Linked DNA regions of Homo sapiens: region 2 is linked to region 1. The links come from fine-mapping of genetic effects on gene expression. A gene starts in region 1. The other region holds a variant in brackets. All regions are shown on one strand. Distances are between the middles of the regions.

Region 1 (5,379 bases):
AGATGGGGTTTCACCATGTTGGCCAGGCTGGTCTCGAACTCCTGACCTCAGGTGACCCGCACGCCTCGGCCTCCCAAAGTGCTGGGATTACAGATATGAGCCACCGCGCCCAGCTTCTTTGGGGGCATCTCTTTGCTTGTGCAGTATTCCATTTTTAATATATATTATTTCCCCCTTTGATTTTAATAAGCCGGAGAAGAATTAGGCTGATACCAATTCACTGGATTATTCATTCCTTCATTAATCACTCATCAATTGATACCAATTCACTGGATTATTCATTCCTTCATTAATCACTCATCAATTGAGTTCCAAATAACACTCACAGTCCTAAGCAAGGATGAAACCAAGAAACTTTTAGAAGCTGTAGTTAAAATTTTCTCCCAAGATGTATTTGCTAGCCCACCATCCTCCTTCCCCAGGGCACACAACCATGGTCTGAAGTCACATTTAGTTTTAAGGCCCAACCTTGAGAATCAGGAATTCCCAGCTCTCCATTAAAATTTCATTAAGATTGTACGCCAGTAAATTACTAAGGGTTATTAGGAAGTTAAAACCTGATTCTAATCCCAATAAAAGTTGCTCACATAGACAGAAGCTGGACTACATCTAAGGTCTTTTCTAGGCACAATGGCCTGATTCAGAACTTCAGAGGCCCTAGACTTGGTTAAACTCCACTCAGTGCTCAACTCTAGAAGCCAGCCTTGGGGGTGAGGGGACTAGGCAAGATTCAAACATTCAACAATTTTCCTTTCAGTTTATTTTTTTTTTTTAAATCACTCACTATTCACAGTATTTTAAGTCTTCAGTGGCATTTTGCTCCTGATAATGACACCTAAATTCAGATGAAAGGGAAATAACTTTACTTGTTTAAATTAAATGGGAAGGGGGAGGCCAGAAATCATGAGTAAAAGATGTTTTCCAAATAAATATGATCTCCCTATGATCATTTATTCAATAAGATATAAATCTCTTATAGGGAGGTTTACATTTATTAATTAAATATTAAATATAAATAAGATGTAACCTCATTACATCTTATTTAATATATTAAATAACATATAAACCTCTCATAGGGAGGTTTATATCTTATTTAATAACAGCAGTGATGTGTTTCTCAGCCACAGTTCCACTAGTTTCAAGAACAATTATATCAGTCCCGTTATCAGAACCCAAGAATCAAGAGAGTCACCGGTTAACCTCTGATAAATTTCCTTGTGCGTTACGAATTTAGTATTCCCCCTCTTCCTGAAGCTAAACATCCCCACTATGTGATAGGATATTTACTGTTTTGTACTTATCACTAATTCTCGTTTCTACATCTCCTCACCCGTTTTTACGGGTGTATTTGTCCTCAAATTATAATCAGGCATGACCTTAGAGATCTAGAGCTCGTTATAAAGCTAACATTACGTTCAGTTCTCGTGCTAAACTAGCTTTTTCTCACTGTTGATCCCAGGGCCACCAACATCAGAATCGCTTGAAATTACTACCTCCCATTTCGGTATCTGGAGGTGGGGTCTGCTCATCTATTTTAACATAGTGAGTCTATGCATATTGCAGTTTTGCAGCAGCGTGCGTAGAAGCAGAAAATAAAAAGTTCCATGTAGTAGTTTTAAATAGTTCTCTGAGTTTCCTCGTCTGTCTCTCCGCGCCTGAACTTTCTTTCGCAGTAGGTGCGCAATACATATTTACGAATAAGCGTCACACCATGCAAAAAAAAAAACTTCCAGAGGGCCCAGCTGGTTTATGCTGCGTGGAACTGGAAAGTTTAGTTACTGTGACGTTAAGAATGTGTTTCGGGGGCGAGGGGAGGACGCTTTTTGCAGGTTTTGATGGCTTGCCTGGGGAGAAAGAGGTGAAGGTCGGACAAAGAGTGGAGCAAAACACGTAGCCCTCCGGGCTCCTGCGCTAAGTTCTAAAGGTGCCGCCCACACGCGGGGAAACACCGCCGGGCGTCTCCCGCCGCAGAAGGGAATCGCCCCAGGGATTAGGAGGCCACAGCACGAGTTAAGAAACACAACCCAACCACGCAGACGGGGTCGCAGCGTTACCGGGTTGCGACAGGTCTTGGAGCGCGGGTGACATGTTGTCGAGTCTCCTCCTTGCGCAGAGGGCGCGGCAGAGAAGACGTGCTCTCCACAGGTGACGACGGCCAAGGGCCACGCCAGCCAGCGCCAGGCGAGCCTGCCACACAAGGCCCGGGTCTTTTGACGCCTCCCGTTGGCTCGCGTCGCGGGGGGACTGCGGACCCCGAAAGCCCGCAGCGCCCTAGGGCCTCTCTCGGGGCTGGGCGCGGCAACTGCTGGAGCACGTGCTTTCTTCCCGGGTACCCGGCCAGTCCTTGGTGTCGGCCTAGCAGCCAGACACGCGCGGCCAGAGGCGGAGTCGCGGGACGGCACGGAAAAGGACCCAAGAGAAAACCGGCAGAGGAGGACGACGTGACATCCGGCTCTGAGCCCCGCAGACATTTAGAACCTTTCAGAGCGCGGTTAGTTCTGCGCTCAATCTATCCTCGGCGTGGGAGGTCCCGCCCCTTCCGGCCTGTGATTGGTCTGCCCGAGCTCCTCGCAGCCGCATTGGCTGTCAATATCAACCAATCACCTGCTGTTTAGCCCCGGGGCTCTCTGGGAGATGTAGTCCCGCTCCCCAGTTTCCCGCGGGAGCTTTTCGCGTCTCTGTGTGCCCAGGATCCGGAAGTGTAAGCCTAAGTGGCCCCTCTAAGGAAAAGTCACAGCGCCAAGTTCGTGCTGATCTCGACACGCTGTGTGGTGTCGAGCCTGAAATTTTAGTTCCGTTTTGCTGTTGACTTGCGCTGGGCAAGACAGTTAACCTCTCAGTCTCCACACTCTACAAACAAGAATGATAGGATGGTAGTAATTAGAATTTTTTAGGGTTGTAGTAGGCGTTAAATGAGATCGTTTGACCGCGCTATGAAAACTCTGAATTACCATATGGGGGTGTTAATTGTAACTTATTGACAGTAAACATATATTGAGCACCTACTATGTGTCAGGCATTGGGGCACACACTTGGAATGCAAAATCAGACAAGCTACATCGCACCCTCACGTCCTTGGAGGAGGAACTCACAACCTAGTTAGATTAATAATTGAACAGGGAAAAAAGAACCACATACATTTTAAAAGAGCTAGAGTATTCAAAGGGGCCAGGGAAAGGTTTCAAAGAAGAATCTGGGTCCTGAAGGAAGAGTGGTACCAGGTAAGGTTGTTCCAGTCAGGAGAAGCTCCCTGTGTACAACACAGCACTTTAGGGAATTCTAAAATAAAGGGCAGCTCTGTAAGGCCGAGCATGGTAGATGTGAGAAAAAGCAAATTCATCTAGAAAAATCTCTGTAAGGCTGAGCATGGTAGATGTAAGGAAAAGCAAATGCATCCAGAAAAATAAAAACTATAACCAAATTATGACATTTACTAAGCTTTAAAAAAGGCACAAATTTGCATGCCATTCTCATTTTATTGTATGTAATTATACCTCAATTTTGAAGATTTGAAAAATTATTATAATGCGTATCACATTCTTACCAAGACCATCTTACCAAAGATGGTCTTACTTGGAAGGTGGGGGGAATGGAGTAGGTGAGAGAGAATGCAACAAAGAAGGGAGGGAGGAATGAGATGGCCCTAAATAGCCAAAAATCTTAAGATTATAAGGGCTAGGGTGAGAGTAGGTGAGGGATAAACGACTACACATTGGGTGCAGTGTCCACTGCCTAGGTGATGGGTGCACCAAACTCTCAAATCACCACTAAAGAACTTATTCATGTAACCAAACACCACCTGCTCCCCAAAAACCTATTGAAATAAATAAGTTAAAAAAAAAGAAGAAGAAAAGGAGGAAAGAAAAAAAAGCAAGGTCTTCTATGCTGAACTTATTAAATTATTTATCCAGGCTTGATAAATCATGATGGTTTTCTCATATTTATTATTATGTTTATTCATTTCTCAACTCCTGAGTTTTTATCTGCAAAAAAAGAAGTAGTGAAATTTAACTGTGTAAAGATGCACCTGTCTAAAAAAAAAAAAAAAAGATTATAAGGGCTAGTTGTTTGTTTGTTTGAGACGGAGTCTCACTCTGTCGCACAGTCTGGAGCGCACTGGCACGATCTTGGCTCAGCTCACTGCAACCTCCGCCTCCCGGGTTGAAGCTAGTTTTTTAATTATCATGTATCCCTCAAAGTTTGTTGACGTGTTTCTTGAAAAATGATCTTTCAGGCACCTAGTCGGCAACTGTCCCCCATTCACATTCTCTTACTGGAAATTCCAGGAGTTGTGTGCCAGTCCCTGTTTGATGCAAGTCATCAAAGTTTACTCTCTCAGCTAAAACTGACCAAATTCTGTATTTCTTAAAGTCGTAAAAGAGTAACAAATAAGATTAGAGGAATACATAGTGCCTAAAGGGGCAGTGAATTTCTAGTACAAAAACGCGATTTACAGTTCCAAGAATACTGTATGGGTTGCAATGTGTCCCCCTCAAAGATATGTTGAAGCCCTAACTTCCAGTGCTTCAGAATATGACCCTATTTGGGCCGGGTGCAGTGGCTCACACCCGCAATCCCAGCACTTTGGGAGGCCGAGACTGGTGGATCGCTTGAGGCCAGGAGTTCGAGACCAGCCTGGGCAATATGGTGAAACCCCATCTCTGCTAAAAATACAAAAATTAACCAGGCGTGGTGGCTCACATCTGTAATCCCAGCACTTTGGGAGGCTGAGGTGGGCGGATCACCTGAGGTCGGGTGTTCGAGACCAGCCTGCCCAACATGGAGAAACGCCGTCTCTACTAAAAATACAAAATTAGCCGGGTGTGGTGGTGCATGCCTGTAATCCCAGCTATTCGAGAGGCCGAGGCAGGAGAATCACTTGAACCCGGGAGGGGGAGGTTGCAGTGAACCGAGATTGTGCCATTGCACTCCAGCCTGGGCAACAAGAGTGAAACTCCGTCTCAAAAAAAAAGAAAGAAAAAAAGAAAAGAAAAAGAAAAACACAAAAATTAGCCGAGTGTGGTGGCACATGCCTGTAATCCCAGCTACTGGAGGCAGAGGTGGGAGAATCGCTTGAACCTGGCAGGGTGAAGGTTGCAGTGAGTGGAGATTGAGCCACTACACTCCAGCCTGGGCAACAGAGAGATACTCAGACTCAAAAAAAAAAAAAAAAAAAAAAAGAATATGACCTTAATGACCCTATTTGGAAATAGGTTTGTTGCAGGTTAGTTTAGTTATGAGATCATCATCCAGCGTAGCTGGTGTCCTTATGAGAAGGGGAGATACACGAGGAGAAAAGAGCCACTTGCCAACAAAGGTGGAGACTGGAGGGAAGCACCTGCAAACCAGGGAACTCCAAGGATTGCCAGCAGACATCCA
Region 2 (5,379 bases), 240 kb before region 1:
GGGGTTTTTTACTAACAGATCCTACCATATTCTAGCTTCATCTTGATTTAGCTATATTCGTCTGGGGTACAGGTGGCACAGGAGAAAAGAGGAGGTTACATACAGAGCTAAGACTGTGATGCTTTTGGAAGGTTATAAAATCCAGGAGAATGTTGACACCAACTTCTACAGTTCTTAGTTGGATTTAAACCAAGTAACGGTGTATGATACAAACAGAATTATCTTTTTGAATTTGTCATTGGATGTCGTGATCACAGTGAAATTTCTAAAGGTGAAGGACTAAGGAATGTGAATTAGAGAAAAGGAGCTCTAAACCTCAAGATTGACATGATCTTTCAGCCTCTATGCTGTGATATTTGGCAGAATTCTGTGCTTACACTTCAGGTGGCAGGTGTACTGAGCCACCAATGGGTGCTTGGTTCAGCCATGAAGGTTGAGGTTGCCCAAACCAACATCCTCTCCTTAATATATGCTGTGCACTAATGAGAGCTGAAGGCAGATGTGCAGGGTGGACCTACCCTAAAGCCCCACTCAGAGGGTTTTCAACTGATGCTCTTGAGCCAATCCACTCATTCATTCAGCATTATTTCCGCCTGGTTCTGTGCTCGCTTCCTGGAGTGCAGAGTGAACAAGGCAGTGCCTGCTTCCTGGAGCTTATAGTGTGCACAGTGCAGACAGGTGAGTGCTGTGACAGGTACATAAGATGGGGTGGTGAGGGGACAGGCTGGTGAAGGCCGTAAGGGAAATGCTCCTTGGAGCAAGTGACTTGTAAGCTGAATGGTAAGAAGGCACCATCCAGATCTGAGGCGGGATAGGCCAGGAAGACCAGTGGCCCTCATGATTACAGGGAGTAAGAAGGACCAAGGTCGAGGGAGAGAGCTCAGAGATGAACCCAAGAAGCAAAGAAATGGTGGCACCATCCCAGGAATCTGCACTTGATCTGAGATGGGCCAAGGCATTACATAAAATCTCATCACTGATTTATTTTTAAGTTTTATATTGTACTTAGGGGAATCAGGAATTTAGCAGACGTTCTGAATTCCCTGAAGTCTCATCTTGCCTCAATTGTGAAATCTCAGGGTCTATGGAAATATTTTTCCTGGGCTACACTAGTGGGTTATCTGGATTGGCAGTTGTCAACCTTTTCTTACTGTAGTTGATTAATGATTCGTTTGCTTAAATAAATAAATAAGCACACATTTTTGAGCACCTATTATGTACCAGGCACTGAGGTAGGTGCTAAAAATACAAATGTAACAGGATGGCACTTTCTCTTCTCAGCCTCAGCTAAGGCACCAAAAGGTCAAAAACAATAAAACAGGTAGCAAAGGCTCCCACATTCTAAAGAGAATAGTAGGACACCTATGTGGGGTTTGCAGAGAGGGTGCTGGAAACTGATTTTGAGGCTTACAGTAGAGGTAGAAGTGGCTGAGAGAGATGATTTCTTTGGAGAAAGTTGGAGCGCTGTCTTTATCCCTAACCCCACCCACCCCATCTCAGGGAGGAGACGCAGGGGGCACAAGAGGTGCATCCCCCACTCGCCTCAAGCCAGGAAGACAGGCTGCAAGGAGACTACACAGAAAGCTTGATATGGGTCCCCTGGAGATTTCTATCTGACTCATGCCTGAGAAATGCAAATAGTAAGTGGCTCTTTTGGGGGACCATACACAACCACAGCAGGAGCTAGCTGCCAGACACAGACTGCAGACGGAAGTATTTCCCTTAGACCGGTTATGGCATGCAACCTAGGATGTCTTAAAGGCGTCTTAAAGGTGCCTACCCAAGAAAGCTTCCTGCCAGGGGCTGGATAACCTCAGCACAAAGAGACTGAATGGAGGCGTGCTGAAGATGCAGAAGCCGGGGCTGGGGAGAGGTGAGGTGCGGGAGGCATCAGCACTTGTAGGGAGCTGAAGAGGAGAGGGGTGGGTCCCCTGAGCAACCCCTGAAAACATCACTCAGAGAAAGAATCACCTTCAAAGATCTTCCCAATGCTGGTAACTTAAGACCATTCCTGCTATGCTCTCAGCCTCACTCTCAGTGGCCACCTCCAGCTCTGGAAGGTGAAAGCAGCCTGGTTGGGGTGCGAGGAGGAGCGGCTCAAAGGAGGGAAATTAAAGGGAAGCTGACCTCATAGTCCATCCTTCAGTCTTAGGCTCCTCAGCCAGATGCTCCCAGTCTCTGGAAGGAGACACACTTTCTATTTGAAGCTTAAAGTCATGGTTGTGAAACTGGACTGAACATTCCAGCATGGAG[T/C]CAAGACTGCTCGTGACTAAAAGTGACAGGAATGTCCTCCAGGCAAAAAAACAAGCCTCTAAATGGTTGTAAAGGGACAGAGAGAGAAAAGAATACAGTTGCTTTCAGCATCCCTGTTGAACTCTGGTCTTTCAATGTAACGATTGCACAAAGGTGCGTAACACACACAAGGTTTGCCTTCAGGAACCACACAACGTCTGACTGAAAAAAGGTGCAAAGCGATGACAGCACAGCATGCTAAAAAGCAGGGCTGCAGTTGCAGGAACTCTGGGGAAAGAAGAAGGCTTCAACCCTTTGTTGATGTTGAGGTAGGGTTGCCAGGTAAAAGACAGGGCACCCAGATACATTTAAATTTCAGAGAAGCCACCAATAATTTCTTAGTGTAAGTATGTCCCTTGCGATACTTTTGTTTGTTCCTCTGGTAAGGCTTTGCTCAAGGCACAGAGGGCCCTGGAAACCCCTTTGTTGATCTGACCTCTCCTCCTTGTTGCTCTTTTTCTTCCTGGGCCTTGAGTTCTGCCGACACGCCTGGCCACCCGTGGGTGAATGGCGTACCCTCCATCATCTACTGGGTTTTATTTTTAATTTAATTTTTTCTTTTTTGAGACTGAGCCTTGCTCCATTGTCCCCACCCTGGAGTACAGTGACGCCATCTCAGCTCACTGCAACTTAAACCCGGGTTCAAGCAATTCTCCTGCCTCAGCCTCCTGAGTAGCTGGGATTACAGGTGCCCGCCACCATGCCTGGCTAATTTTTGTATTTTCCCTAGAGACTGGGTTTCGCCATGTTGACCAGGCTGGTCTTGAATTCCTGACCTCAAGCGATCCGCCCACCCCGGCCTCCCAAAGTGCTGGGATTACAGGGGTGAGCCACTGCCCCCCACCCATCTACTGTTTTTTATAACTGCCTCCAGAGAAATTGTGAGAATCCAAATAAGATCATCCAAATATCACCACTAGGCTGTGACTTCTAGTTTATCTCCAGCGTCCACCTCTCCCCCTAAGCTCTACAATTATATCCAACTATCTACGCAGCCCCTCCATGGGAATGCACAGCAGACAGCTCAAATAGGACGTTTCCCAGACAGAGCCCCCATCTCCCAAATCTCTTCCCCAAACCTCTTGTTCTTCAGTCTTCCCCGTCTCAGTGGATGGTGCCTCATTATCAAGCCAAAGACACAGGAATCATCTTTGGATTAACTGTCTTCCCTCACTCCCCACGTCTAATCCATCAGCAAGTCCTACTTCTAAATATATCTCAAATCTGGATGCTTCTAATTACGTCATTGCCAGTGCCCTAGTCCAAGGCCCCCTACCCTCTGCTCTGCTTCCAAAGCCTCTCTCTCCTGCCTCTGCCCGGTCTAGTCCCCCTATACCTCTTCTCTTTGTCCTTGAGTAGAATCCATGCCCTCAATCACACACCTAACAGGGACCTGCTTCTCTGTTCTTTCCCACCCCTCTCATTATCCCATACCCGCCCCCTTTATTCAATGCACTTTAACCGCACTGGCCAAGGCCACCCACTAAGCCCTCCTCTGTGGAGCACTCTCCCTGGGAAGGTCACATGACTGGTGCCTTGTCACTATTTGGATGCTGGCTGAAACATCCTGTCCAAGAGGCCTCCCTGACCACCGTCTCTTTTTTTTGTTTGTTTGTTTTTTTCTGAGACAGAGTTTCACTCTTGTCACCCAGGCTGGAGTGCAATGGCGCAATCTTGGCTCACTGCAACCTCCACCTCCGGGGTTCAAGCAATTCTCCTGACTCAGCCTTCCAAGTAGCTGGGATTACAGGTGCACTCCACCATGCCCAGCTAATTTTTTGTATTTTTAGTAGAGACGGTGTTTCACCATGTTGGTCATGCTGGTCTCAAACTCCTATCCTTAGGTGATCCACCCACCTCAGCCTCCCAAAGTGCTAGGATTACAAGCATGAGCCACCGCATCCAGACTCCTGACCACCATTTCTAAGGTATCAGCCTTCACTCATCACTTTCCCCCTCATTACCTTGCCTTATTTCCTTCTAAATTGGTCATCACTACCCAAAACTGTCTCATGTATTTGCTTGCTGAGCAGAAATCAAAATCCTTGGCAAAGTGAAGATAGTCTATTACCTCTCCTTCAATCCAGCTGACTACTCATTTTGTCAGAAGAGGAAGTTATAGTCTGACAGGATTTGTTCTTTACAAGGCCATCCTGTTTGCTGCCGTTCTTATGAAAATATTAATCAAATAGTTACACAATTATTTTCTTCCAGTCTCTTTCCTGATAGACAGGTTAGGCTTATCGGTCCAAAGACTTCTAGATTATTCTTTCTCTAAATATGTAACTTATTATTTTGATTAATATCCAAAATTCTCCTGCACGAAATCTCCAAAATGAGACCAATGCCTGCTCAGTACTTAAAAAGGTAAATAACTGAAATTTGTCAATACATATGACTCGGATTTTTCCTCTCCATTGTTTCTTTAAATTCAATTTGTACCTTCAAAATAAAACCACACAGTGATACTCGATATAGATAGACAGATTGATGAATAAATAGACAGTTGAGTTTGTTTCAAGTCTCTATCCTGTAGTGTCATTTCGAATCAGATTTCTATGTCCATCTAATAAGAAAAAATACTTACTTTTATTAATATATCTCATTACTGAACCATTTAGTCTTTTTCAATTTTTCTTTATAGAGTTTGCTTTAATTCTCTCATTTTATCTACTAATTTTCATTATTCATGTTTCTCCTAGTAAACTACCCCACATTCAACTTTATTTATTTATTTTTTTTTTTTTGAGAGATTGGGTCTCACTCTTTCACCTAGGCTAGAGTGCAGTGGCACAATCACAGCTCACTATAATCTCAAACTCCAGACACAAACGATCCTCCCACCTCAGCCTCCCAAGTAGCTGGAACTACAGGTGCCCGCCAACATTCTCAGCTAATTTTTTTTTTTTACTTTTTTTGCAGAGACGGCAGTTTCACTATGTTGCCCAGGCTGGTCTCGAACTTCTGGACTCAAGCAGTCCTCTCACCTGTGCCTCTCAAAATGCTGAGATTACACATGTGAACCACCATGCTGGGCCCCCACTTTCATTCCTGTAACATTCCCATTTATATTCCATGTCCTAGAAA

Alleles and levels. Positions count from the first base shown, and alleles are read on the strand shown. Sizes are in standard deviations (SD) of each study's normalised expression.
In carriers of allele T in region 2, the expression in atrial appendage of the gene that starts at base 2,500 in region 1 tends to be higher than with C alone (small effect, 0.17 SD a copy in GTEx).

What was found. PIP is the estimated chance that this variant, and not a neighbour inherited with it, causes the effect.
Region 2: its variant is fine-mapped to the expression of MTR in atrial appendage (GTEx, PIP above 0.99).

The regions. Positions count from the first base shown.
Region 1 is chr1:236,792,413-236,797,791 of GRCh38, reverse strand. It overlaps MTR (5-methyltetrahydrofolate-homocysteine methyltransferase), which reads right to left and starts at 2,500. Exons shown (of 33, transcript NM_000254.3): 1 at 2,055-2,500. The coding sequence starts at 2,088. RefSeq lists enhancers at 1,895-2,084, 2,185-2,474.
Region 2 is chr1:237,028,497-237,033,875 of GRCh38, reverse strand. No RefSeq gene overlaps it. Among named protein-coding and RNA genes, the nearest start is that of RYR2, 11 kb to the left of the region's middle. The variant T/C (reference allele first, on the strand shown) is at 2,254.